Regions from separate parts of the Homo sapiens genome. Here region 1 is linked to region 2. The links come from fine-mapping of genetic effects on gene expression. A gene starts in region 2. The other region holds a variant in brackets. All regions are shown on one strand. Distances are from middle to middle.

Region 1 (11,655 bases), 43 kb after region 2:
CTCACGAAGTCCACGATGTTGGGGAAAAAACAGTCTTTTTGATGCCCAAGGGAAGCTTTGCTTTTATGTTAGTGGTTACACAATTTCTTTTACATATCATCAGCAGGAAAACATCATGTTTAAAACTTTGCTTAGAACATGTGATTCCCCAAACGCTGCGTGCGGAAGGCCGCAGGGTCCTCTGCCTAGGAAAACCAGAGACCTTTGTTCACTTGTTTATCTGCTGACCTTCCCTCCACTATTGTCCTATGACCCTGCCAAATCCCCCTCTGCGAGAAACACCCAAGAATGATCAATAAAAAAAAAAAAAAAAAAAAGAACATGTGATTCCCAATAATATGGCTGAGACCCTCAGTTCTTTTGAAAAAAGCAACAAGGTAAAGTAGCCCCTTTATGCCAAATGCATATGTCTGTGCCTGTGTATGTTTTTACGGCTGTGTGACTGTGTGTGTGTACATATAGTCAAAAGTTCCCAATCTGTCATGCCTGTAATCCCAGCTCTTTGGGAGGCCGAGGCCAACAGATCACCTGAGGTTGGGAGTTCCAGACCAGCCTGACTAACATGGAGAAACCCCATCTCTACTAAAAATACAAAAAATTAGCTGTGCGTGGTGGCAGGCGCCTGTAATCCCAGCTACTCAGGAGGCGGAGGCAGGAGAATCGCTTGTACCCGGAAGGCAGAAGTTGCAGTGAGCCGAGATGGTGCCACTGCACTCCACTCCAGCCTGGGAAACAAGAGCGAAACTCCGTCTCAAAAAAAAAAGGTCTCAATCTGGAAGGATACACATTTGGGTTCCACAGTGATTCCATCTGTCGGATGGCCAGGTCACAGCTGACTTTACTTATTTTTGCTTACCTGTATTTTTTTTTTTGAGATGGAGTCTCCCTGTGTTGCCCAGGCTGGAGTGCAATGGTGTGATCTCGGCTCACTGCAGCCTCCGCCTCTGGGTTCAAGCGATTCTCCTGCCTCAGCTTCCCGAGTAGCTGGAATTACAGATGCCCATCACCATGCCCAGCTAATTTTTGTATTTTTAGTAGAGACGGGGTTTCACCATGTTTGCCAGGCTATTCGCGAACTCCTGACCTCAAGTGATCCGCCCGCTTCAGCCTCCCAAAGTGCTGTGATTACAGGCGTGAGCCACCGCACCCAGCCCTTACCTATATTTTTTTATTGAAGTGAAATTCATGTAACATAAAATTATTCTAAAGTGTACAATTTGGCCGGGCACAGTGGCTCATGCCTGTAATCCTGACACCTTGAGAGGCTGAGGTGGGCAGATCACCTGAGATCAGGAGTTCGAGACCAGCCTGGCCAACATGGTAAAACACTGTCTCTACTAAAAATACAAAAATTAGCTGGGTGTGGTGGCGCATGCCTGTAATCCCAGCTACCTGGGAGGCCGAGGCGGGAGAATCACGTGAACCCAGGAGGCGGAAGTTGCAGTGAGCCAAGATGGTACCATTGCACTCCAGCCTGGGCAACAGAGTGAGACTCCATCTCAAAAAAAAAAAAAAGTGTATAATTTAGCACTTTCAGTTTTTTGCAACGCCTCCAATGTTTTGCAACCATCACCTCCAGAACATTTTCATCCCCCCAAAGGGAAACGCCTTCCCCATAGGCACTCGCTCCCCACTGCTCCCTCCCCCAGCCCATGGCAACCACTCATCTTCGTGTGTCTGTGGATTTGCCCGTTCTGGAAATTTCATAGAAGCGGAATCAGGACCATGTGGACCTTTGTGCCTGGATTCTTTCACTCAGCATGACAGCTTCACGACTCACCCACATAGCCTGGGCCAGAACTTCATTCCTCTGGCCGGGCACAGGGCCTCACGCCTGGAATCCCGGCACTTTGGGAGGCGAGATGGGGGAGGATCACTTGAGGCCAGGAGTTTGAGACCAGCCTGGACAGCATAGTGAGATCCCATCTCTACTAAAAATAAAACGTTAGCTGGGCGTGGTGGTACATGCCTGTAATCCCAGCTACTCGGGAGGCTGTGGCACGAGAATTGCTTGAACCCGGGAGATGGAGGTTGCAGTGAGCCGAGATCGCACCACTGCACTGCAGCCTGGAGGATACAGCAAGACTGTGTCTCCAAAAAAAAAAAAAAAATCAGCCAGGTGTGCTGGCAGGTGCCTGTAATCCCAGCTACTCGGGAGGCTGAGGCACGAGAATCGCTTGAACCTGGGAGGTGGAGGTTGCACTGGGCCAAGGTTGCCCCACTGCACTCCATCCTGGGAGACAGAGCGAGACTCCACCTCAAAAAAAAAAAAAAAAAGCTCATGCTGTCTACAGGGAAAGCCCCTACTGGAGACAGCTGCGCTTGAGTGAGTGGGACTACAGTGCCAACGCTAGGGCTTATTGTGTTGACTGTGGGGTCACCGCGGTTGCCACGTTCCGAGGACACGGTCACTTCCTCGACCGCCTGTCCTGCCTCAGATGAACCTGCATATTTTACAATGAACGTTCAAGACGTCGGTGATAAGGACATGAACAACAGCGACAAGGGCTGTTTTAGAGGAACCCGCCTGAGGTTCCCGGCCCCAGCCTCTCGAAGGACGCAGCTCTGTGCTCAGCCCTGCCTCCCTTGTCTCTCCACCCCCACCTTCCTGTGTGCTTCAGCCCACCTGGGACATCCGAATTTTCTCCAGGAGGAGCGGCAGGTACTAGGGTGATGACAGTTATGAACACGAGTCACAGCCCCGCTCGGTGGGATGGCCTCCTGTGTTCCCTGTGACTCGGACGCTGAACGTTGCTCACACGTTGACAGCATGGAGACGGTTTCACCGTCTGCTACTTTCGAGTTTATTGTGGTGTCTCTCTGCGTCACCCTCATTTTGAGCAGCTGTGGAGGATCCGGGGGCCCCAGCGCCCGCAGGATTCAGGTTTGTCTCCGCCGGCCAGGACATCCTCACAAAGCAGACGTTTCCTCCCCACGGGTCTGGAGGCTGGGGGTGGGGGCGCCCCGTGGTCCGGCTCTGGTGAGGGTCCTCTTCCTGGCAGATCCTGGGAACCCGCCTGAGGTTCCCAGCCCTGGCCTCTCTAAGGATCCAGCCCTTTTCCCCGTTCTCAGCCCTGCCTCCCTTCTCTAGTGCCTTCTTGCTGCGTCCTGACGCGAGGGTGGGATAAGGAATAAGGGGAGGGCACCTGTGCCCTTTCTACTAAGGCCCACCCTCATGACCTCATCCACCCCCAGGCACCTCCCATAGGCTACATCGTCAATACCCTCTCCTTGCAGGTTAGGGCTTCCAGGAAGGAATTTAGTGGGGACACGATTCAGTCCCCCCACTTACACCTTTGCAAATAGCAAGAGAGGGCTGGATATGGTGGCTCACGTCTGTAATCCCAGCACTTTCGGAGGCCAAGGCGGGTGGACCACCTGAGGTCAGGGGTTCGAGACCAGCCTGGCCAACATGGTGAAACTCCATCTCTACTAAAAATACAAAAAATTAGCCGGGCATGGTGGTGCGCGCCTGTA[G/A]TCCCAGCTACTCAGGAGGCTGAGGCAGGAGAATTGCTTGAACCTGGGAGGTGGAGGTTGCAGTGAGCCGAGATCGTGCCACTGCACTCCAGCCTGGGTGACAAAAGTGAAACTCTGTCTCGGATAAAAAAAAAAAAAATAGCAAGAGAGGTTCAATCACCTATACATGGAAGGAACACAGGGAGATTGACACACACACACACACACGCACGCGGGCACACACCCATGTGCACACACACACACAGAGCTAAATGACAAAAATGAAAATGGTACCACACTGCACGTGCTGCCCTGCACCTTGATTTTGATACTGCAGTGGGTTAAATGGTGCCCCCCAAAAGATAAGTCCCCCTGGAATGTGTAAATGTAACTTTCTGTGGAAATGGGGTCTTTACAGCTGTAATTAGGTTAAAGACCTCGAGTGAGATCAATTTTGCCTTTTTTTTTTTTTTTTTTTTTTTGAGATGGAGTCTCACTCTGTCACCCAGGCTGGAGTAAAATGGCGCGATCTCGGCTCTCTGCAACCTCCGTCTCCCCGGTTCCCGCGATTCTCCTGCCTCGGCCTCCCGAGTAGCTGGGATTATAGGCGCCCACCACCACACCCAGCTAATATTTGTATTTTTAGTAGAGATGGGTTTTCACCATGTTGGCCAGGCTGGTCTCAAACTCTTGACCTCAGGTGATCTGCCCGCCTCGGCCTCCCAAAGTGCTGGGATTACAGGTGTGAGCCACTGCACCTGTATAGTTCAAGATAGTTTTACAAGATGGAAAAGTTCTGGAGCCAGATGGCAGTGAGGGCTGTACAACAATGTGAACATACCTAATGTCACTGACTGTGTGCTTAAAAATGATTTAGAGGGCCGGGCGCGGTGGCTCACGCCTGTAACCCCAGCACTCTGGGAGGCCAAGGCGGGTGGATCACCTGAGGTCAGGAGTTCGAGACCAGCCTGGCCAACAAGGTGAAATCCCATCTCTACTAAAACTACAAAAAATTAGCTGGGCCTGGTGGCAGATGCCTGTAATCCCAGCTACTCGGGAGGCTGAGGCAGGAGAATTGCTTGAACCAGGGAGGCGGAGGTTGCGGTGAGCCGAGATCACACCACAGCACTCCAATCTGGGCGACAAGAGCGAGACTCTGTCTCAAAAGAAAGAAAGAGAGAAAGAAAAGATGTGTCTCTGCGAGCAGAAGGTCTTGCCGCTCTGACAGTCACAGATGTGTAGGTCTCCTGACCGCAGCTGCACTCCCACCGAGGGCAGAAACTAGGAAGTCCTTGGAGCTTTGGTTCCCTTGACAGATGGGGGTGGAGCCCCCAGTGTTATTAAGGAGGCATGGCCCAGCTGCTCCTGCACCTTTCCAGCCAACTCTAGATCTGTCCTGGGGGCACAGTGAAAGGTCTCTGAAGTCTGTGGCATGTCCTGCTGCTCTAAGGGGGGCTCTGGCCCATTTCAGGAGGTTTTGCTGACAGACAAACTCACAGGAAGCCACAGTTGAGACACGGGGTTTGCAGTCCTGGTGAAGGGAAAGTGACTGTCCTAGTCAGCTTTGACAAAACACCACAAGCCAGGTGGCTTACAAACAATGGAAATGCATTTCTCACAGTGATGGAGGCCAGAAAGTCCAATATCGAGGTGCAGGCAGATTCCGTGTCTGGTGAGCGCCCGCCTCCTGATAGACGTCACGTGGTGAATGCAGTCAGGGGTCTCCTGGCAGCCGGGGTGGGGGTCTCTTCTTTTTTTTTTTTGAGATGGAGTTTCGCTCTTGTTGCCCAGGTTGGAGTGTAATGGCGCAATCTTGGCTCACTGCAACCTCCGCCTCCCGGGTTCAAGTGACTCTCCTGCCCCAGCCTCCCGAGTAGCTGGGATTACAGGTGCCCGCCACCACCCCAGGCTGATTTTTGTATTTTTAGTAGAGACGGGGTTTCACCATGTTGGCCAGGCCGATCTCGAACTCCTGACCTCAGGTGATTCACCTGCCTCGGCCTCCCAAAGTGCTGGGATTACAGGCTTGAGGCCCCGTGCCCGGCCAGGGGTCTCCTTTATAAAGGCCCTGATCTCATTCATGAGAACTCCACCCTTATGACCTTGTCACCTCCCAAAGGCACCACCTCCCAAAACCATCTATATTAGTCCATTCTCACATGGGTACAAAGAAATACCTGAGACTGGGTAATTTAGAAAGAAAAGAGGTTGAATTGGCCCACAGTTCCTCAGACTGTACAGAAAGCATAGCGGCTTCTGCTTTTGGGGAGGCCTCAGGAAACATCATCGTGGCAGAAGGTGAAGGGGACACAGGTGTGTCCTACGTGGCTGGAGCAGGAGGAAGAGGCACCACTGAATTTTATTTATTTATATTTATCTATTTATTTATTTTGAGATGAGTTTTGCTCTTGTCACCCAGGCTGGAGTGCAGTGACACGATCTTGACTCACTGCAACCCCTGCTTCCCAGGTTCAAGCGATTCTTCTGCCTCAGCCTCCCGAGTAGCTGGGACTACATGCACCTGCCACCATGCGTGGCTAATTTCTGTATTTTTGGTAGAGAAGGACTTTCACCATGGTGGCCAGGCTGGTCTGGAACTCCTGACCTCAGGTGATCTGCCCGCCTCGGCCTCCCAAAAGGCTGGGATTACAGGCGTGAGCCACCATGCCCTGCCCGGCTAGATTAAAGTTGTTTAAAGCAAAATAAGGAGCAGTCATTGCCTGAGGCCGTCTCTGTACTGGGAGTTCCCACTAACCAACAACAACTTTATTCAGTAGTTTGTTAACAGATAGCCAGGTTTCAACCAATCAATCACGGGCAGCCAACCAATCAGACCACACCCAAATAAGGCAAAGGTCTTGAGTTATTTCTTTTCTTTTTTTTTTCTTTTTCTTTTTTTTTTTTTTTTTTGAGACAGAGTCATGCTCTGTTGCTCAGGCTGGAGTGCAGTGGTGTGATCTCGGCTCACTGCAACCTCCGCCTCCTGGGTTCAAGCGATTCTCCTGCCTCAGCCTCCCGATTAGCTGGGATTACAGGTGCACACCACCATGCCCAGCTAATTTTTGTATTTTTAGTAAAGACGGGGTTTCACCATGTTGGCCAGGCTGGTCTTGAACTCCTGACCTCATGTGATCTGCCTGCCTCGGCCTCCCAAACTGCTGGGATTACAGGTGTGAGCCACGGTGCCTAGCCTGGCCTTGAGTTATTTCCGTACTTCACTTCCACATTCAGCCTGTAAAAGCCTGCTGCTCACACTGCTAAGACAGAGCTCCCAGAGCCTCTTCCACCTTTGAGTGCTGCCTGATTCATGCCTCCTTTAATGCTCAAATCAACTCTGTTACATCTATTTTGTCTAAAGTAGGAAGAATCCTCAAATAAGATTGCCACTGGGACACCAAGCTCGAGTTGGCCAAATGGTGCAAACTCCACAGATCCAGCTGAAAACAACATGGCAATGGCTACTAAGCCATGGGGCTCCCAAAACTGAAGTAGATGGGTCAGCTGTGAGAAGCTCACTGCCTGGTACGGAGCATTGGATGGATTGAAAATCATGGAACAGTCCCTGGCTGAGTCATGAGCCGTTGCCACGCTGCCTGAAAATAAACGCAGAACCTTGTTCATGGACTTCCTCCTTCCACCTCTCACCCCCCTCCACTTACGTTAGGAAGAAAGATGATTAGAGGTTCCCAGGCCGTGGGCACCATCCAAGTGTGCTGGAGAACTTGGAGGAGAAGAAGAACTCAAACTTTATGGCTCTGTCGGATATGAGTAGCCCACATCACTCTCCTGTTTGGACCAGTGGAAGGAAAAGTTCTCTGGATTCCGCTCACCGGATTTGTGCACGGTTTGAAATGGGGAGTGAAGGCTGATGTGATCTTGTGGGTGTGGCATTTTGGGCCAATTCGATGCCCTGTTTTTGATGCTTCTATGTGTGTGTTGCCGCGTAGGAGCTGTGTTTCATCCCCATACTTCCATCCTGTACGTGCCAGAGGGGACTCTCCCTATTGGCAAGCACTGAATGCAGAGAAGGGCCAGTGGGATGTGTGAATCTCTCTGCAACCCGCTTTCAGGGCGGGTACAGAATCCCAGAAGCGGTACAGAATCCCAGAGGGAAAAAGGCGCATCAGAGGTTTGATTGAGGGATTAAGGGCAGTAGGGGGACTAAGAGATGAAATATGGGGCTGGGCGTGGTGGCTCACGCCTGTAATCCCAGCACTTTGAGAGACTGAGGCCGGTAGATCACTTGACACCAGGAGTTAGAGACCAGCCTGGTCAACATGGTGAAACCCCGTCTCTACTAAAAATACAAAAAAATTAGCCAGGTGTGGTGGCGGGCACCTATAGTCCCAGCTATTCGGGAGGCTGAGGCATAAGAATCCCTTGAACCCATCACTTGAACCCGGGAGGTGGAGGTTGCAGTGAGCCGAGATCGTGCCACTGCACTCCAGCCTGGACAACAGGGTGAGAGTCTGCCTCAAAAAAATAAAGGCTGGTCGTGGTGGCTCAAGCTTCTAATCCCAGCACTTTGGGAAGCCGAGGCGGGTGAATCATCTGAGGTCAGGAGTTCAAGACCAGCCTGGCCAACATGGAGAAACCCAGTCTCTACTAAAACTACAAAAATTAGCTGGGCATAGTGGCGGGCCCCTATAGTTCCAGCTACTCGCGAGGCTGAGGCAGGAGAATCATGTGAACCCAGGAGGCAGAGGCTGCAGTGAGCCGAGATCACGCCACTGCACTCCAGCCTGGGTGACAATCACTGGGTGACACTCCGTGTCAAAAAAAAAAAAAAGAGATGAAATATGGCAACACAACATCCCTGAGTGGCCAGTGGAGCAGGTAAGAGCTGCTGGTGGCTGACAGTGGATTACCACCAACAGAAGTCAGCCATTGCTCCCAGAGCCCTAGCTGTCCTACACACTGTGACCATACCGAGCCCATCACGTGGGCTCCGGGTACTTGGTACACTGTCTTGGATCCTGCCAATGCCTTTTTGCCACACCACTGGCAGGGGAGGAGCAAGACCAGCTTGCATTCACATGGCCAGGTCTCCAATACACTTAGGTGTGTTCCCCGTACACGCCCCGCCACTGGCCACCTGTGGGCAGGTTAGGACTTCTGATGTCCACAGGTGCCATGATACAGATGATGTCCTGCAGGTTGGCAGCTCAGAAGCCTTGGGTCTCTAGAACTAGACAACTAGACGGGGGTACTCTCATACCTCCCTGTCCACAGAGGCAGGCAAAACATCAACAGCGTCCAGTGGCTGCCTCACCAGGTGGAGTTTCTTGGGATGAGGTAGGTGGAGGTGGGTCCACAGCACTCACTGCCTCAGCCAGTCAAGGAAAACCTGTTGTCTCTTTGCTCCCTCATCTCACCCAAAAGGACAACCCAGCACTTGATTGGACTGTGTGGGTGTTGGAGACAGGATGTGCTTCATTTGGGCATTCGACTTGGCTTCTTAAATTAGTGAATCCAGGTCGGGCGAGGTGGCTCACGCCGGTAATCCCAGAACTTTGGGAGGCCGAGGGGGGTGGACCACCTGAGGTCAGGAATTTGAGACCAGCCTGGCCAACATAGCAAAACCCTGTCTCTACTAAAAATATAAAAATTAGCCAGACGTGGTGGTGTGTGCCCGTAATCCCAGCTACTCGGGAGGCCGAGGCAGGAGAATCGCTTGCACCTGGGAGGTGGAGGTTGCAGTGAGCCGAGATCACACCACTACATTCCAGCCTGGGCAACAGAGTAAGACTTGGTATCAAAAAAATAATAATATAAATAAAATAAATTAGTGAACCCACAAATCAGCCTGCTTACGTCAGGGCCTGAACCAACAGGCTATTCCAGCTGCCGCCCCGTGAGCCACAGGCCACTCTCTCTCCCGCTGGGGCCTCACAGCCCTGTGATCCCTTTGAACGACAAGTCCCTGTGGCTGACGATCCCGTTATCTGGAAACTCCAGAGAAAGAAAACAGCCTCTGCCCAGATGTGCCCCTTGGGGTGGTGGATTCACTGACTCTCTGACACGACTACTAGGTTCACCCCTTGTTTTCAAAAAGCAAAATTAGCTTACAACGAGCTCTTGTCCCAGTGAACCACCTGACCACGGAGGCCTTGTGACTGGAGCCTGACAGTCCCATTCGGAGGGTTTTCAACTCAGACACAACCACCACAAGGAAGGAGGGCCCTAGAGCTTCTCTTTGCAAACAGAAGACTCTGTATTCAACAGCAGCGGGCGGGTCCCCGGTGATATGTCAGCTTCTCATCGGAAGTGGCAGCTCTCCCTTTGGGGGAAACTTGACGCGCCGCACTCCACCGTCTGAGGGAAAGCTCGTGGCTCTCCAGGGCCCTCGATCCACCAGGGCCCCCTAAACGGCTGCTCACCTGGTGTGCTCACCGGCTTGCTGTCAATAAATACGTGGGTAAATCTCTGTTCGAGGCTCTCAGCTCTGAAGGCTGTGAGACCCGATTTCCTATTTCACACCTCTATATTTCTCTGTGTGTGTCTTTAATTCCTCTAACGCCGCTCGGATAGGGTCTCCCTGACTGAGCTGGTCTCAGCACGTCTCTACTAAAAATACAAAAAAAGGCCAGGCGTGGTGGCTCACGCCTGTAATCCCAGCACTTTGGGAGGCCGAAGCGGGCGGATCACGAGGTCAGGAGATCGAGACCATCCTGGCTAACACAGTGAAACTCCGTCTCTACTAAAAATACAAAAAATTAGCTGGGCGCCGTGGCAGGCGCCTGTAGTCCCAGCTACTCGGGAGGCTGAGGCAGGAGAAAGGCGTGAACCCAGGAGGCGGAGCTTGCAGTGAGCTGAGATTGCCCCACTGCACTCCAACCTGGGCAACGGAGCGAGACTCTATCTCAAAAAAAAGGTCTGGGTGTGAGTAGGGGATGCCTGGGGAAGAGACGCAGTTATAGCAGTTGGAATGGGACATGCCAGTTTTGCAGCAGGGCAGGGAGAGCAATGGGCCCCCTGCTTGGGGAGGAAACTCCCAGGCCTCAGGACGAATGGGAAGGAAAGACAGGGCAGGAAGGTCCTCCACTTTCAGAATTGTCCCCGGAGCCTGCCCCGAAGGTGTGTGTGATCCTGTGTCTCTGCGTCTGTGTCTGTGCAGTGGACCTTTCGTTTACCTGTCGTTTGCCCTGGCCAGGGTTTGAGCTCAGGGCCTCAGGCCACGAAAGGCCCTAGAAACAGCAAGGCACGGCCCAGTTCCCGCCCCCACACCTGAGATACCAGTCAGCACCTCCCGGGTCCTCTGCCCCATTCATGTTCCAGGCAGGTGGATGTCACCCATTGGTGGCGTAGAAACAAGGGCCCCAAAACGAGAACTAGACCCATTCAAACTGAACTGGAACCCGGCCAGTGCCCATTCCATGAACACTTGATGGGCTAGTGGCCACGGACAGTGTGCAGGTTCTGGGCCAGGCCTGCAGATGCAAAGGAGAACGTGGTCACTGGTCCCTGCCTGGAGGGAGCACCGCGTCCCGCGGGCCCTGCTGGGAAATGCCTTTTTGGAAGATCTCGGGGACAGGGTCACCCAGGGCCGGCTATGCGCTCACCAGGCACTCCTCCCAGGGCGGGCCATCTCCCTCCTGGCAGCCTGGGAGTGGCACTGAGGCTGCGCTCATCCTTCTCATGGCCCACACCTTCCCCAGATCCTGACCCACGGATCACGCTCTCCTGCGCCCCTCCCCCAGGAAGCCCTCCTCGGGAGACCCTCCAGAACTTTCTTGGCCGCGGTCTTGGCCTGGCTCACATTGACGGAAGGTGTGGGCTCCTGCACCCTCCAGCTGAGCTCCCTGCAGGCCGGACCGACCACCACTGCCCTGCACCCACTCCCCCTGGCCCTGGGACAGCCCTCCTGCAGGAGGAGGACAGGCCATGCAGGGAAGCACATGCTCTCCCAGCTGTAAACATGGCAAGGCCTCCCTCCAGGCCGGGAGAAGCCTACGTGTTGGCCTCTTGGTGCTTGTGCTCTGTGTCCCACCCTCTCGTACTGCTCTTCCCTTTCTTGGGCTCCGGGACCCTCGCTGGCAGAGAGACAGTGCTTGGATCGAGGGAGAGAGGAAAGGTCACTTGGGGACATGGCAGTCCCTCTTCCCAGCCTGGGCTACGGCTACCTTGGGGGTCACTGAGACTGGGAGGGTCTGCCTGCTACTTTCTCCCACTGGCCCCTCTCCCCTTCCTCACGTTGCC
Region 2 (16,568 bases):
CACCTGTAATCCCAGCTACTCAGAAGGCTGAGGCAGGAGAATCGCTTGAACCAGGGAAGCGGAGGTTGCAATGAGCTAGGATTGTGCCACTGCACTCCAGCCTGGGCTACAGAGTAAGACTCTGTCTCAAAAAAAAAAGAAAAGCCATCGTGCTGGGCACAGGGCACTGGCCACTTGGCTTCCACAACACAAATCTCCCAGGAGCAGCAGAGAGCACGTCGGGGCTGCCAGGGGTCAGGCAGAGTGTGAGGGGCTTCGGAGGGGTGGGAAACATCCTATCCATCCTTGGCGGTGACGATTACACGGGGGTGCTCATTTGCCCAAATGCATTAAACTGTCCACGTAAAGAGGGTGCCTCTCGGACGATTTTAGGGCAGAGACGTCCGTGCCTGATACTGTCCTGGCAGCCACGTGCCCTCATACACTTGCCCAGACCCTGAATGTGCTACACGGAGTGACCCCAATTACACCGTGGGCCCCGGGTGACTGCGACATGTGAGTGCAGGTTCACCCACGTCACAGACGAACCGCTCCGGTGCAGGGGGAGCTGCGCACGTCGGGGCGGGGGCTGTGGCGTGGGACCTCTGTACCTTCTCTCAATTTGGCTGTAAGCCTACAACTGCCCTAAAATAAAGTCTCTTTATTTATTTTTTTATTTATTTTTACGCAGCTCTCTTTTCCTTAAAATAAAGGCTCTAAAATTGTGTGATTCCACCTCCCTGAGGCTAAGCGAAAGAGCCGCGTCTGCCCCTGTCCTTCCCGGGGGCTGGCAGGGAGTGGGTGCCCGGCGGTGACTCAGCCCTGCAGCCTCCCAGCCCTTCCCCGTATGCGGGCAGGTGATGCGGACGCCTCCGACCCTCGTGGGGTTTGTGGAGAGCGTTGATCAGCGCTGCCGTCAGAACAGGACCTGTGCGAGGCCTCGCAGATGCCGGGAGCCGGGCGGTGCTCTCGGTGCTTCTCATCAAATCCACTGGCTCTTCGAGAGGAAGCACATGTCACAGCCCAGCTCAAACAAGAAGCAAGAAAATCACTCTTCATTTTGGAATTGTAAAATAAAGTAGAAATTATCCTCAGGCTAGAGTGACCTTCCCGTCCTGCCCCAGCCACCCCCCACCTCCCAGCACCTGCCGGTAACAGCCCTGCACACAGCCCCGAGACCCTCCGCCAAACCCAGCCCACCACCCCCGGGAGGGCTGTGGAAGAGGCTAGAGAGCGCATCCCCTCTGGCTCCTGGGGTGGAGGCCTGCTGTGGGTTGGCTGGAATCAGCCCCCCTCCCCCGTGTCCTGGGCCCCTGCAGCCCTGCGAGGCGGACACCTAGCCACCCCTCATCCCAGGGAAGCCAGGGCCAGGGAAGGGCCCAGGAGGGGAGGGTTCGCCCTTCCTGCTGGATGTCGTTCCTTTAAAAATCCCTGCCGCTGGCCGGGCGTGGTGGCTCACGCCTGGAATCCCAGCACTTTGGGAGGCCGAGGCGGGCGGATCACGAGGTCAGGAGATCGAGACCATCCTGGCTAACACAGTGAAACCCCGTCTCTACTAAAAATACAAAAAATTAGCCGGGTGTGGTGGGGGGTGCCTGTAGTCCCAGCTACTCGGGAGGCTGAGGCAGGAGAATGGCGTGAACCCGGGGGGCGGAGCTTGCAGTGAGCCAAGATCGCACCACCGCGCTCCAGCCTGGGAGACAGAGAGAGACTCCGTCACAAAAAAAAAAAAAAAAAAAAAAATCCCTGCTGCTGGAGTGGTTGGGGGAGCCGGCTGGGGGTGCAGACTGTGGTGCCACTGTGGCCGCCGCCATCATTGTCACCATCATCAGCATCACCATCATCAGCTGCCATCCCTGAACCCTCAGGCTTTGCTGGTGGCTGGGAGGGAGGCCGAGGCTGGCATGGCCTGCTGCCCTGACCTGCTTCCTGAACGCTCCGGCCACCCAGGCCTGCGTGGAGTAGGGTCCACGGGCAGACAGATGGGCAGGCCCCTTAGGCAGAGCAGCCCTCCCCATCCCGGCAGTGTGGGGGTCTGCCGGGCAGCCTGAGAGAGGAGTTTCCAGTCATTGCCCAGGCAGGGGTGGCTCAGGAAGCTGCAGTCCCCCCCAAGAGGCCTGATGGTGCTGGGCGGGTTTGCAGCATCCCGGCTGAGAGTCCAGTTGGTGTCACCTGGGCCAGGATGGTGGCCAGTGGCAGCAGCAAGGATATAGGCATGGGGGTGTCCTGCCTGATGCAGAGTCATGGCCAGGGCCTGGGGAGGGACCTGCCCCGTGTCCCCTCCCTGCCTGGGGAAGGGCCCGGACCACCTTCACACAGTCACCCTAGGGCACTAGTGGGGAGTGAAGGAGCCGCCCCCCAGAGCAGGACAGGGAGCTGGTGTGGAGACATGCAGGACAGGGCGCTAGGATGCAGGGGTGCAGGGTGCTGGTGTGGAGAGATGCAGGACAGGGTGCTGGGGTGGAGACTGCAAGGTGCTAAGGTGGGGACGCACACCTGGCAGGGCTGGAGGGAGCACGGGCTGGTGGCAGCCTTGCCTCTCAGGCTGCTCCGGGCCAGGGTGACTTGGGAAAGCCAGGCTCGAGAGGTGAGGCGTTGCCTGGGGTCACACGGCTGGCAGGAATGGCCAGGGCTGGCTGCAGGGGCCCGCACTGCCCTCCCGCCTCCACCAGAACCCGCTATGTTTATTCAGGGACGTGAGGGGGTGCCCAGGTCCAGCAGGTGTTAAGCCGAGCAAAGCCTGCAGCCCCAACGAGACAGCCACGGGAGCTCGGCACCCTCAGTCCCCCAGACAGGGCTCTTCCCCTCTTTGGGCCTCAGTTTACCCATAGGTGAAAGGAGGGCACAGTTAGATGGTCCCTAAGGCCCCAGGGACCCAGGCCAGCCTTGCCCTCCCCCCAGCCCCAGCAGTAGGGCATCTGAGCCTTTCATCAGGAAAAGGAGACTAAATTTATGCCTCAGGCCCCCTCTGCGCTTGGCGGGGCAGAGGTCAGGCTTCCGGCAGCCCCCACCCCTTGACGCAGTTCCCCTTCCCCTCTGGGGGGCTCTGGGGGGGCTCTATTGTTCTCGAGGGCTGGTTCCCAATCTCCCCGAACACTCACTTCCTGTTTCCTGGCTGAGAGGAAACAGAGATTCCTGACCAGGCAGATGCCTTTTTTTCCCTTTCTCTCTTTACATTTTTTAAGGGTATTAAATAATAGTGATAATATGACGGCAGCCTTGGTGCTGAGGAGTGTGGACTCGGGGACTGGAGGAAGCCCAGGGCCACCTGCATGGGGCTCTGTTGACCCTCCTTCGAGAATCTGCTGGAAGCTATGGACCCCTCCTCCCTCCCCACCAGGGAAGGGCCCAGGCATAAACTGTGTGCACTGTGACTGGGAACAGGGAGACCCCGGCACCCTCCCCAGGACTCCCAAGACCCTCCACGCCCTGATCTGACACGTGGGGAAACTGAGGCAGACAAGCTTTCAGGGCACCTATGGTCCCTGACCCTACCGGAGCTCTATGACAACCCCGCAAGAGAGACAGGGATGAAGCCTCCAGGGAGGGACCCTCACACCCTTCCCAGAAGCCCACAGACCCCAGACACACGGGCATCCCCAGGGGAGGGGCCCCCCACCACTGTGCCTTGCGGAGACTGGGGTCCCTGTGGCTCTGGGTTCCAGTCCAGCCCTGCCGGGGAAGGCCCTGGGAGCTTGAGCAGCCACTCCCATGGGGCCTCAGTTTCCTCATCTGTAGATGGGGTCAGATCATTGCCTCCACTTCGCAGGGCCAGGGCAACGGCCCCAGGAGGAGACACCCGAACGCAGCACCTGCTCACAGGCGTACACCGTCTCTCCCGCTATTTTCTCCCCTAAAAGCTTGGAGCGCCTGGTCCCCAGCTCTCCCCACACGGGCAGGCGGGGAGAGGACAGGGCGGCCCCCAGATCTCCCCAGGCGGGCAGGTGGGGAGAGGACAGGGCGGCTCCAGCTGGGGGCCGGGCTGCTGAACTGCCGCCACCTCAACTGGCTGCCCCACAGGCCCTGAGCTCTCGGGAACTTCTCCTTCCGTCGCGGGAGATGAAGTGCTTTTTCCTCTTGACGTTAACGGCTGCCCCATCTGTCGGGCCTGGGCAAATCACAGCCCACCGAGTGGGACTTCTGTGCCATGTACTGGCGCCAGGCGTGAGGGCAGCCTCAGGGGGCCGGCAAGTCCCCCTTCCTCAGCCCCATGGGAACCTCAGCAGGGGTGGGAAGCAGTCTCCAGGGCCTGCAGGAGCGGGATCCCAGAAGCTGGACACTGGGACCAGCCCCGTTCGTGGCGCTGAGGACCCCGAAGGGACACGCGAGGCCCTGGCAGCTGCATTGGGTGGGGACTCTGAACTCACTCGAGGGTCACATGACCCTCCTTCAAGAATCTGCTGGAAGCTACGGACCCCTCCTTCCTCCCTCCTGGGAAGGACCCAGGCACAAACTGTCTGCCCCATGACTGGGAACTGGAGACCCCGGGACCCTCCCCAGGGCTCCGAAGACCCTCCATGCCCTGGTCTGACACGAGGGGAAACTGAGGCAGAGAAGCCTTCAGGGCACCCATGGTCCCTGACTCTACTGGAGCTCTATGACAACCCCGCAAGAGAGACAGGGATGAAGCCTCCAGGGAGGGACCCCCCACACCCTTCCCAGAAGCCCACAGACCCCAGAAGCACAGGCATCCCCAGGGGAGGGGTGCCCCACACACTAGGGGCTCCATCTGGGGCTCACGCTGCTCCACAAGGCTTTCTCAAGTCAGACCACCAGTGCCCACCTCGTGAGCTGCCAGGCAGCACCCAGTGTCCATCTGGGGACCCCTCTCCCAGGCTCACTCCACAGTGGAGGCCTCTTCTCTCTCCTCCCCTCCAGACTCCCTGGGTGCTGCTGGGGACATCCACGGAGCCTGCAGCACACAGCCCCCTGAGCCCACACTGCGCTCTCACCCCAGCCAGGTGTCTCCCCTGTGAAGCAAGTCTCTCCCTAGGGACGGATTCTGCCGTTTAAAAAATAAGATTTTCTTCACCTTCCTACATGAACAAAAATAACAATACAGCAATACCACTGCAAAATCATCAGAATGGCTAAAATGAAAAAGACAGACAACAGCAAGTGCTGACAAGGGTGTGGGGCGGCCAAATGCTCCTGCACTGCTGGCAGGGGACCTGAGAACTGCAGGGCATTCCCTGGCTTCCTGCCCCTCCTGGGACTGGGGACCCCCCAGGGACAGCCTAAGGGAACTGCATTTATCTTCACGTCTGCCAAAAGATAACACGAAGATGTTCAAAGCTAAGCCCCCAGGCTGGTAAGAGCTCCAAGGCACCAGCAGTGTGTGCAGAACTGGGGGGAGTCTGTTCTCCCAGGGATGCTCCCATCACCTGCTGCCAGCAGTGGGGCATGCCGGTCCCCTGGGGTGTGGCCAAGGGGCTGTGTCTCCTGCCCGGGCTGCCGGCCCCTCTCAGGTTCACTTTCCCATCTCTAAGCCCACGTCTCGCTGCAGTTCAAGTTTGCCAGGCCACCAACGGGTGACACGCCCGGCGCAGTGGGGGACTCCGCACTTTCTGCGCACCTGCTCCAAGTCACCTCTTCCAGGTCCGGGTCCCTGCCCTGTGGAGCGCGCACCCGGGCAGGGGCATGGAGCACCGGCAGGACTGGACTTTGTGCTGAGTGTGGTGGCGCCTTAGGAGGAGGTCACACAACCCGATGTGTCCCTCCGCGAAACTCCCTGAGCACTGGGTGTGAAGGGCAGCGGCGCCCAGCAAGGCCGAGGAGGGGCGACTGTTATCCAGGCAGGAAGCGGGGTGGACCGGACCAGGGTAGGGGCAATGTCAGGAGAAGGGGACACTCAGATGCAAAGCCGGTGGGGACCTGCCAAGAAGCCAGCCCACAAGGCCATGGACTCCTCCACGCCATCAGCTGGAGCAGTGGGCAGCCCCAGGAAGGGAGACGGGAGCGGCCAGGGGAAGGGCGAGGGGTCCCCCGGGCGACCCCCGAGGCTCAGGCGCCCGGACTCCAGTCCTGGGCCTCCGTTTTCCACCCTTGAACAAGCGGCTTCCACCTGTGAGCCAGCTGCCTCCTCTGAAAATGGAAGCCCCTCAACTCAGAGGGTGTCGCTCTGGGACGTGGGTCAGGGGCCGGAGCAGGCAGGGAGAGGTGAGAGGAAAGGCTGGGGACCCTCACTTCTCCCTGCCCAAACCCTCGCTCGGGAGCAGACGGCTCCTCTGCCCGCAGGCACCCCTGCCTGGCAGCTCCCTCCAGCCCCCGTCGGGTCCGGGACGTCCTCTGATGGGAAGGTTCCACCACATCCGTGGCTGACAGAGCCAGCCCGTCCGAGGCCGGGGGGCGCTCGGGGTAAACAGGAAGCCCCATCCCTCCCGCACTCTGCTTCACTCCCTCCTCCTGCACCTCCTGCAGCCCGGCTCCCGCGGCCGCGCCTGGTGCCCCTCTGTCTCGCGCCACCTGAGATGCCCAGGCTGGCCTCTGCCAGGGGCTTAGTCTGCCCTCTCCTGGGGCTTCAGAGGCCAAAAGCACCCTGGTGAGGGGTCCGGGAGGCCCGGGAGGGCCCGGGGGGCTCTGCCAGGCCCCTCCACGCCTCTCTGCCCAGCCAGCACGCTCTGGGAAGGTAAGGCAGCCCTTCCCCTTATAACTAACCTCAGAACATTCCCAGGTGGCTGGAAGGCCACTGGACAACATGGCCCTGCTGACAAGAGAGACAATGGGGAAACTGAGGCCTGTGTGGGGCACAAAGCTGGGACCAGAGCTCCAGCTTCCTGCCCCTGCCGGGCCTCCACCTCTGACACCACCCCAGGCAGGGTGAAGCCCTGGGCTCCAGACCTTCCAGTGCCCAGATGAGGACAGGCGCAGGCCTTGGGGTGGCCACACTCTCCCACCAGGTCTCCCCCTCTGTGCTGGGCCCCTGAGGTGAGGGGAGGAGGCCAGGCGTGGGGCCCGGCCTGGCTTCTGTGGGGCTGGAGCCTGGGCAGGAGGCACTGCTGACTCCCAAAATGATTCCCTGCTGAAGGTCTGTGCCATGATCCCAAACACACACCACCAGAGCGGCCAGGGCAGGGAAGGGGGCACCTCCAAGGACCGGAGGGTGAGGGAGGGGCCCGCCTGCCCCTTGCTGAGCCCCTGGGCCTTGGGCACAGAGTGTGCTCCACCCATACCAGAACCCGGGGGCAGCCCCAACCCCCTGGACCCCCAGTACCCTCTGGCGTCCAAGAACCCATGTCTGTCCCCTGCCAACCCCCCGCCCCTCCTGTCCCCGCTGGGCCCCCGACATTAGGGCAAGGCCGCAGCCCACCTCCTGTACCTGCCTCTGAGGCTCCAGGAGCCCAAGAGAGTGGAGTGCCCCTCCTGTGGTGGCTCCAGGCTATGGGATAGGGCAAAGCTGGCACTCTGGGCCTGAGCCCAGGCCTCCTTCCCTTGGGGAGGGTCTAGTCTTGGCCTGGGGAGGGGCTGGGGGCAGGGCAGAGCTTATCAGGAGGGGGTTGCAGTGAAGAACAAGTTGGCAGCAGGCGGTGCCCAGCCCCCCAGGCTGTCACCCAGGAGTCCAGTGCCAGGAGGACAGCCTGGGGAGGACGCAGACTCTGCCCTCGCCCCTTGCCTGTAAGCACAGCAGTCAGTTCACCGGGAAGGCCCCCAGCGGGCCAAGCCTTAGCAACTCGTGCACTCGGCTACTTAGCTATTCCTGCCCCGAGCTGTCCCCTGGCCGGATAGGTCTGATGACAGGGGCTGCTCCAGGTTGGGACATAGGACAAGCTGGGGTGGGGGACATGGGGCTCCCCAAGAAGAGGAAGGAAGGGTGAGGCAGCCTCCTGTGCCGAGCATCCCAGCCCTGTCCGGCCTCCAGGCTCACCTGGGCCGGTCACTTCTCCCTCTGGGCCTCAGTTTCCCCCTCTGTACACAGAAAGGGCTGGATCTAGCCCACCCCATGCTTGTGGGTCCTTCCACCAGGAGGCCAGGGCAGATCCAGGGGCATGCAGGTGGGGGAGGAGGGGGCAGGCCGCAGGGATGCAGGCAGAGGGCAAGAGGGCACCTCCTGGGATGGGGGCACAAGCCTACTGGGCCCCTATACGGTGGAGTAGCTAAGTAGCCGAGTGCACGAGTTGCTAAGGCTTGGCCCGCTGGGGGCCTTCCCGGTGAACTGACTGCTGTGCTTACAGCCAGGGGCGAGGGCAGAGTCTGGGTCCTCCCCAGGCTGTCCTCCTGGCACTGGACTCCTGGGTGACAGCCTGGGGGACTGGGCCCGGCCTGCTGCCAACTTGTTCTTCACTGCAACCCCCTCCTGACAGCTGGAGGGACAGGCTGGCCAGGGCAGGATGAGCCCCTGGGTGGGAGAGCCAGGGGGCCGAGGGAGGCACAGGGCGGCTGAGGGTGCAGCCAGTAGGGTAAGGGCCAGATCCCAGGGTGGCCTAGTGTGGAGGAGGTGGGGAAATGGGGTTCTGCCTATCTGCTCCAACCTCAGGGCAGGGGCCACCTCTGGAAAGAGGCCCCTCCCGCTCAGACCAGCGGTGCCTGGGTGCCAGGAGCGCCCCCTTAAACCAGCTCAGTGACCATGAAGCAGGTGCAGAAACAGGCCCGGAGAAGAGTGAGGTCCTGCCTGGCTGAGGCCCTGAGCCCTGACCACAGCCTGGCGCCCAGAGCAGACCCTTCCCCTGGCCGTGGGTAGAGGGGAGCTGGTTCCTGCTTGAGGGGGAGGCGCATCGCGTGTGGGTGAGGTTTCCACCTGCCCTCCAAAGTCCCGTGGGGAATTTCCCCAGCTGCCCCAGCCTCCCTTGGCTCAAGTTGCCCAGCTGAGTGGGGCTGGAGAGGTGGGGGCACACTGACCGCCCAGGGCCAGGGAAATGGGGGTGTCCCAGGCATCAGGCCGACAGGGGCTGACCCCAAAGCAGGGCTCACACCCCACGGACAGCGGGGTTGGGAGAGGCCCTGCTCTCCTGGGGTTCCAGGCGTGCCCTCCAAAGCCACCCAGCTCCCTTCGGCACCGTGTCCCCTCCCACCCAGCCCACCTTTGCCACAGTGGCTCGCTCGGCCTGAGGCTCCCACTGCCGTGTGAACAGGGAAGATGAGGGTCAGACCTGGAGGCTGGGACGCCGGGAATCTGACAGAGCACCCCCTGTGATCACCCACAGTGTCCCGCATCCCTCCCCACACCCCCGGCCGCAGCCTGCTGCCAGCCCAGAGCACCCCTGTGAAGTGGGGCTGAGGGCATTGGGCCTGCTTGCCCATCTCCAGGGCAGGGGCTCACAGCCTCACTGGCAGCTCTTTTAGGGGAGAGAGCTTGGACTCCATGCTTGTCCCCTCCCGTCACCCCCTCACCATGGGCCTCAGGGACCCACGGAACAGGCTGTTCTCGGACCGCTCAGCCTGTCTTGCCACCCCAGTCCCTTCCTGCCGGGCCTCGCCACTCGCCATCCCTCACTGGTCAAGGCTCCTGTGTGGCTGGTCCCTGCCTTGGCCTGGGGCCCCTCCAAGCTCCCGTGCTGTGTCACACACATCTGGGGGTGTCCTGGGGGAGGGCCCAGCATCCTTGGCCCAAAGATGCAGCAGCTCCCTTCTGTCCAGCCACACGTGAGCATGGCCTGTGAACCCACGGTCCTGGGAGGGCCCTGGGCTTGCGTCCTCCACCCCACACTCTCCCCAGGGTCTCCAGCAGGGTCCAGCCCTGGTTTCTGGCTGTTTTGGGGCTAGACTCTGATGGCCCAGGGGACGGCTTCCCCACCCCTGGGCAGTTTGTCCAGGCCCCCTCACACGGTGGCCCCCACCCCCCTCAGCCTCCTGTTTGTCCGACGACACGTCCCCGTTATCAGCGGAGAACACACACAGGAAGTCCGGCTGGGAAGGGCCCATCCCAATCCCGATTACCCAGGACGGAGCATAAAAAGCCGCCCTTCCTCGCCCGGGGGGAGCCTCCCTGCACCAAGCTGGCCCTGCACGGCTGCAAGGGAGGCTCCTGTGGACAGGCCAGGCAGGTGGGCCTCAGGAGGTGCCTCCAGGCGGCCAGTGGGCCTGAGGCCCCAGCAAGGGCTAGGGTCCATCTCCAGTCCCAGGACACAGCAGCGGCCACCATGGCCACGCCTGGGCTCCAGCAGCATCAGGTATGGCAGGGGTGGCCTCGGAGGGGCAGGGAGCGGACAGGGCGGGCCCCCCATTCCCCTCACTCCCGCTGACCGTGGCGCCTGCTGGCTGCTCCGCAATCTGCTCCCCAGCGAGGTCACAGGGGAGGGGTCCCAGTCTCCTCCCCTTCTGCACAGAGGAGGCCACTGAGGCCCCTTGGCCAAACGCCTGCTAGTGGGTGGCCCAGCGTAGATCCCAATCCAGTCTGCTGACTCCAACACTTCACCCCCAGTCGCCCTTCCCCTGAACCCCACCCTCTGGCCTTTCTCTCCCTCCGCAGAGCAGCCCCTGTGGTTGGCAGCAAAGTTCAGCTTGGCTGGGCCCGCTGTGAGGGGCTTCGCGCTACGCCCTGCGGTGTCCCGAGGGCTGAGGTCTCCTCATCTTCTCCCTAGCAGTGGATGAGCAACCCAACGGGGGCCCGGGGAGGGGAACTGGCCCCGAGGGAGAGGAACCCCAAAGCCACATCTGTAGCCAGGATGAGCAGTGTGAATCCAGGGTGCGGGACGTGGGGCTCGGGCTTAGGGATGACTTGCTGGGTGCGGTGGGCAAATGGGTGACTCTGTGGGCCCCCCTTGGACCCTGGAGACGCCCTTGTTCTCCCTCTCCCCAGCCTCATGCAGAGTGGCTGAAGCCCCATCCCAAAGCCCCCAAAACCACAGTGGGTCCTAGAAGGCCCCACTTTTTGTCTCATACGTCCACACCAAGAAGCCTGTCTGAGAACCCCCACTTTCCAAATGGTGCCTAGCCAGGATGGGGGCAGCGAGGGCTGAGTCGGGGCAGCCCTGGAGCTGCCCTTTCTGCTCCATCGCCTCTTCCAGACTCAGGCAGGAGAGGTGGGGAGGCAGGTCAAAGGGTTAAGTGACCGCAGATCCAGAGATGAGGCCAGGGGCAGGGGACAGGGAGGGTGGCGGTGGCTCTCCCACCCAGAGGCCCCCTAGGCCCCACTCTGAACACTTCACTGCTGGGGGCTAGGTAAGAGCTGCCCTGCGTGGGCTCAGGGCGCCAGGAGGCCTAGGACTCCCCAGTCAGATGAGGAACGCCCCCTGACAGCAGCTGCTCTGGTCGTCCCTTGGACCACGTGCCAGGGGCTTCCAGGGCCCCTGGTCCAGAGCAGTGGCCACTGGATTGCAGGGTGGGGCGGCCTCATTTTGGGGACTCCTCTCCAGGGACCTGGGCCCCTCCCTTCCTCCAGCTCCCATGCACCAAGGTAGGACCAAGCTGGTGGCCCTCTCGGACCCATCTGCAGGCCCCTTGCCCAGCACCCTGGGTTACATGGAGAGACCTCCAGCTCCACTCACAGCAGCCTCCCATCCCCATGCCAGGGAGTCCAGGGCTGGAGGCAATAACCCCATTTTACTGAGGCCAGGGGCTGCGGATCCGAGAGGACAATCAGCTCAGGACAGGATGGGGTCGGGGTAGGTGCAGGACAGGGGCCTGTAGGCCTAGTGCAGGCGGAGGTCCCACAGCAGCACCGAAAGCTGGTCCCGGGCCCCTTCCCAGCCCCCAGACATCAGGGTGACCAGGACTGTGCATAGGCACTAACCCACAACTCCTCTCCAACCAGCAGCCCCCAGGACCGGGGAGGCACAGGTGGCCCCCACCACCCGGAGGAGCAGCTCCTGCCCCTGTCCGGGGGATGACTGATTCTCCTCCGCCAGGTGAGTCCCAGCAAACCCCTTGCTCCGAGGGAACACTTCTCACACCGGCGCCCACGCGGGTTATGACACAGGGCGCTGGCTCCGGCTGGGGTCTGAGGGGCTGCTGAATTGGGCTGGCCCGAGCCCCACGTGCCGCGCCCGCAGTAACAGCTGTAACAATTGTTGTGTGGCCACGACCTCACCGTCACTAGATCCCAGGGCTGTTTAGCCCCATCTTATAAATTTGGAAATGGAGGCCTGGAGAAGAGAGGTGACCAGCCCAGGGACCTCTGGTGTGAGGAGACTCTCTGGGGGCCTGTGGATTCGCTGGGAGGAGTGTTCTGCGATGGCCCTGACTGTGCTGAACTCAGCAGTGACCCAGTGACCCCGGTGAGGGTGCCTGATGCCTGAGAGAGGGCCAGGTGGGGGCCGGCGCAGGGGCCCCCAACCTAACACGCTAAGGCTAGGAGGCAGGCCTGGGCTCTGCCATGTGGTCTCAGAGGAGATCTGGGTCTCTGGGCCTGCGGTGGGGACGGTCATGATGCCCACTGCCTGCGAGGCTGCAGGACCCAGCTCAGTGCTAACCTGCGCCGGGCGCCTACCGCGCGGCCCCCCAGCGGCTGAGATGGGCGTCCCGGGGTGGTTTTCAGCCTGGGGGGCTTGAAAGCTAGCAAAGGGCCCGCAGCCCCGTCAGTGTGGGCGCCCTGGGCGGCCTCTCCTGGCTCCTGGCGGCCGGGCTTGGTCGTGCGTCCCCAGCGACCGCGCAGCGAGCGCCCTGCCGCGGGGACTCGGGCCCCAGGATTCCCGGAGGGGGTGCTGGCGGGCCGCGGCTCAGAGGCGCGTTTGCGTCAGCCCCGGGTTCCAGCAGAGTCACTGCCCGCCCGGGGGCAGCTCGTCCGCCGCGGGGCCTCAGTTTCCCCGTCTGCGCAATGGGGGCGGGGCGGGGCCGCCAGGTGGGGCGGGGCCGGGGGCGGGGCGGGGCGGGGCTCGGGGCCCCCACGGCGCGGGCTCGGGCGGCAGTGGCGGCGGCGCGTGCGCGCCCCGGATCCGGCGGTGAGTGCGGAGCGAGCGGGGCGCGCCGGGGTCGGGGTCCGGTCGCCGCCCGGGCTGGGTCGAGGGCGGGACCCGCGGAGCCCCCGGGGGCGGGGAACCTGGCCGCGCGCGGAGCTGGGGGCGGCTCCGGGACGAGGCAGCGCGACCGCTGGGGCCGGGGGCGGAGCGGGCCGGGGCGCCCGCGGCTGGGTCGGGCCGGGCCGGGAGAATGGGCCCAGCGGCCCCGGGAACCGGCTCCCCCTGCCGGCGGCGGGCGGGCGGGCGGCGCGGCGGGGAGGGCCGGGGTCGCCGCGGCCCCTCGTCCGACCCGGCGCGACTCAGCGCCTCGGGGCCCAGCCTGTGCCGCCTGCTCCGCCCCCCGCGAACCCCGGAGCCAGCAGCGCGGCTGGGAGGGGGCGGCGGGCAGGTCCGTCTCGCTCCGCCTCTGCGCCCTCCCTCGTGGGCCCCGCGGTCCCCAGCCCTGCTCCCGCCGCGAGGGGTCCGCCAGTGCCTGCGGCGCAGCCAGGCCCCTCCCTCTGCGGACCCGGCCTCTCGCGGGTGGGGGCTGCGGGGCTGCTGCCGGGCAGGTGGGGAGGGAGCCCGTGGGCGCTGGGGGCACGGGGACCGGACTGCTGGTCCACCTGGCGCCGCCGCCCCCTCCCCGCCCGGCACCCCTGGGTCGAGGCCGTGGCCCCCCCCGGGGAAATGGGGCTTGCAGCACCGGCTCGGAGAGCACCACGGGCTTCCTCTGGCCTCGGGAAAACATGACTTTCAAAAATTGAGTCTCCACTTAGCACCGCTTCCTGTCCAGGCGACTCTCAGGAATTGTGGGGGGGAGCTGTGCCAATATGTGTGGGGGGCAATGAGGTCTGGGAGATTCGCCTACCCCCAGGCCCGCCCTGGCATCCCCCTGCCCACATCAAGCCGCCGGGCCGCTGCCCTACCTCTTCCTTCCCGGGTCCCACTCCCCAATGTCCCCCGACTTCGAGTCTTGCCTTGAGGTCGCACCAGACCCAGCCCCTAACAGTGTCCTTCATCCAGGGCCCATCCCCAGAGTTAATCTCCAGCCAGCTCTGCCCCCTCGACAAACTCCTGCCCAAAAACTGCTGTGATGCCCCCCCTGCCCCCAAGCTAAGTCCCCACCCCTCAGCTGCCCAGGGCAGCCTCTGCCTAGTTGGCAGCCTCTGCCCTGCCCTCCTCTCTCCAGCGCACAGAGGACTGGAGGCCCAGGAAGGACCCCCAGCCACCCTCCCCGCTGGGACCGGGTGATGCCTTGGCAGTGCCCGTGGGAAGCAGGTGTGGGATCGTGCTCCACACCCAGTGGGGCTGGCCAGCAGCGACTGAGGACAGTGTGACTATTTATAGGACTGGCTGTCAGAGCTGAGGAGGGGCCTCAGAGACCCTATTCTAGTGTGTGAGGAAACTGAATCCCAGAGAAGGGACAGCCTTACCCCAGCCTCTGCCCCGACCCGAAGCCTGGCCTTTCCCTGCGGAGGGCCCTGCAGTGCCTCGGAAGGAACCCACCCAGCCTTTGGGAAGCACCCGTGAGAGGCCCTGGGTGGGACCCTGCAGCATGGCAGGGGCTCGCCAGGTCTCCAGACCCCTGGCTGCGCATAGGACAGAATCCCCATCCCCGGCATTGCCACAGACCATTAATTCTGGGCTCTCATGCTCTCAGGAAGCCTCACCCGGGCCCCTGGCTCCTGCTGCACAGCCAGGAGGGGGTTGGATTCCGGTTCCGGTGACACTGTCGGGGGCTGCTCCTCACCCCCAGGTGTGCACCTGGCACAGCCACTGTCCCAGGATCCCTGGAGGCTGATTGCACACATATCCCAGCCTGGGAAGGACCCCCTCTAAAATGAAGGCCGCCCCTCTGGTGGTCTTAGAATGTGTGCACCCTCCGCACGGTTCCTGCTGGCTTGCAGCTGCTGGCCCACCTGCTGGGGCCGGTTCCACACTCAGATGAGAAATCAAATTCCAGAAGGGCTGAGGCCGGCAGGTCCCTGGTGGGGCTGGATCCCAGCTCTGCCCACGAACACCCCGTTTGCATAGACTGGGGTGCAAACTCACCCCTGCCCTGCTGTGAGGAGGGCCCTGGAACCAGGCAGGACAGGAGAAACGGCCACCCGTAGCTGGAGCCATCCTTCCCGGAGCCTCGGGCAGATGCCCAGCAGGATCCACTCGATTCCTGCACCAAGAGCTCTGGACAGCGTCACCCCCCCTGTGCCCCCAGGCTGTGGCCCCAGCTGTTTGTGCCTGGCGAGGGTCTGGCTAGCTGGAAGAGGGGGCCAGCGGAGGAGAGAGTGGGCGCCACCGTGGGGCTGTCCCACCGGTGGAGGCTCCAGCGGAGATGAGCTGGGCAGGCCTCGCGGAGCAAGTGCAAACTGCACCCGCGTCCTGGGGGCATCTGCGGGGAGACTTAGGGGTCATGCTTTGTGCCCCAGGCCACCCAGAGGAGAAGGCCACCCCGCCTGGAGGCACAGGCCATGAGGGGCTCTCAGGAGGTGCTGCTGATGTGGCTTCTGGTGTTGGCAGTGGGCGGCACAGAGCACGCCTACCGGCCCGGGTGAGCCAAGCCCTAGCCTGGGAGTGCTGGGGTGGGGGGACCGGGAGCCCTCAGCACCTCCTAGAGGCGGCCCTCAGCACCTGTCGGGGACTCCCTGGGGGCTCCTGCTGAGGGTCCTGCCCCGGCCACATGTTCCCATCATTCTTGGGTCCTGCTCTGGGACTCCTGGGCTGACCCCCTCTCCACCCCCGCAGCCGTAGGGTGTGTGCTGTCCGGGCTCACGGGGACCCTGTCTCCGAGTCGTTCGTGCAGCGTGTGTACCAGCCCTTCCTCACCACCTGCGACGGGCACCGGGCCTGCAGCACCTACCGGTGAGTGCCCCACCACACCGAGCTCACCCAGCCCCAGCCTCCCAAGTCGGCCACACATCAGCATGTCAGGGGCGAGGCGGGGGTGAATCCTGGGACCCAAGATGGGAAACTGAGGCCAGAGCCATGAGAGGGCTGCCTGAGATGGGCGACCCAGGGCGGCCGGAGCCAAGGGGTTCCACGATCACCTCCAGTGTCCTAATCCTTGCTCTTGCCCCGACACGTCTCAAAGGACCGCACCTCTAAGAGCATCCCCATGTTTAGAGGGGTCACCCATCCTGTCTGCACCCCTCCACTTCCGGGGGACTAACCCCTCCCTACCCTGGCATCCCTGGCTGCAAGTTCCCATATACACAGAATGGTGCCTGACTCCCCTGGTCCCACTCCACTGGGCACCCCCCTCCACATGACGGCCCCCAGTGGGCACAGATGAGACCCTGAAATGTCCTGTATGCCCACACAAGGGGCACACACCCCTAAGTCTCAGAGTCCTCCTTCCTGGGTGTGGGAGCTCCACCCCCTGCTGGGGGAGGGGCCTGGGAATTCAGACTTCTGGAGGTTTAAGAAGGGCTCCGATGCCCAGGGCCCACACTCTGCCGTGACTCGCCGTAGGCCGGGCACACCCTCTCCTCTGGGCCTGGATGCCCCCACAGTAGGAGACCAGATAGGTGGGGGCACACACAGGCCTGGCCACTGCCTCTGCTCCATGCGGAGTGTGGCTGGGCCTTCCTGCTGTGGCTTGAGTCCCGGCCAGCACCGGAAGGCCCAGGCAGGGAAACGGCTGTGCAGTGACCCCTCAGTGCCATCCCTTGAGGAGAAGACCCTTGGGGGCATGCTGGGGTGACCCTGTGCACTCTGAGAGGGGACTCTAGATGCCCAGCAGGTGACTAAGGGGGAGTAGGATGCCCCTCTGAGCTGTCC

What was found. PIP is the estimated chance that this variant, and not a neighbour inherited with it, causes the effect.
Region 1: its variant is fine-mapped to the expression of EGFL7 in whole blood (TOPMed, PIP above 0.99).

What each region holds. Positions count from the first base shown.
Region 1 is chr9:136,698,705-136,710,359 of GRCh38, forward strand. No RefSeq gene overlaps it. Among named protein-coding and RNA genes, the nearest start is that of DIPK1B, 8.0 kb to the right of the region's middle. RefSeq lists enhancers at 2,466-2,625, 2,666-2,715. The variant G/A (reference allele first, on the strand shown) is at 3,478.
Region 2 is chr9:136,653,024-136,669,591 of GRCh38, forward strand. EGFL7 (EGF like domain multiple 7) reads left to right here and starts at 9,893. Exons shown (of 11, transcript NM_016215.5): 1 at 9,893-10,085; 2 at 10,385-10,600; 3 at 11,669-11,762; 4 at 15,218-15,339; 5 at 15,534-15,650. The coding sequence starts at 15,260. LNCEGFL7OS (lncRNA EGFL7 opposite strand) reads right to left here and starts at 7,398. Exons shown (of 2, transcript NR_135132.1): 1 at 7,298-7,398. LOC102724193 (a long non-coding RNA gene) reads left to right here. Exons shown (of 4, transcript XR_930443.3): 3 at 373-495; 4 at 671-1,073. RefSeq lists enhancers at 2,079-2,703, 16,410-16,568.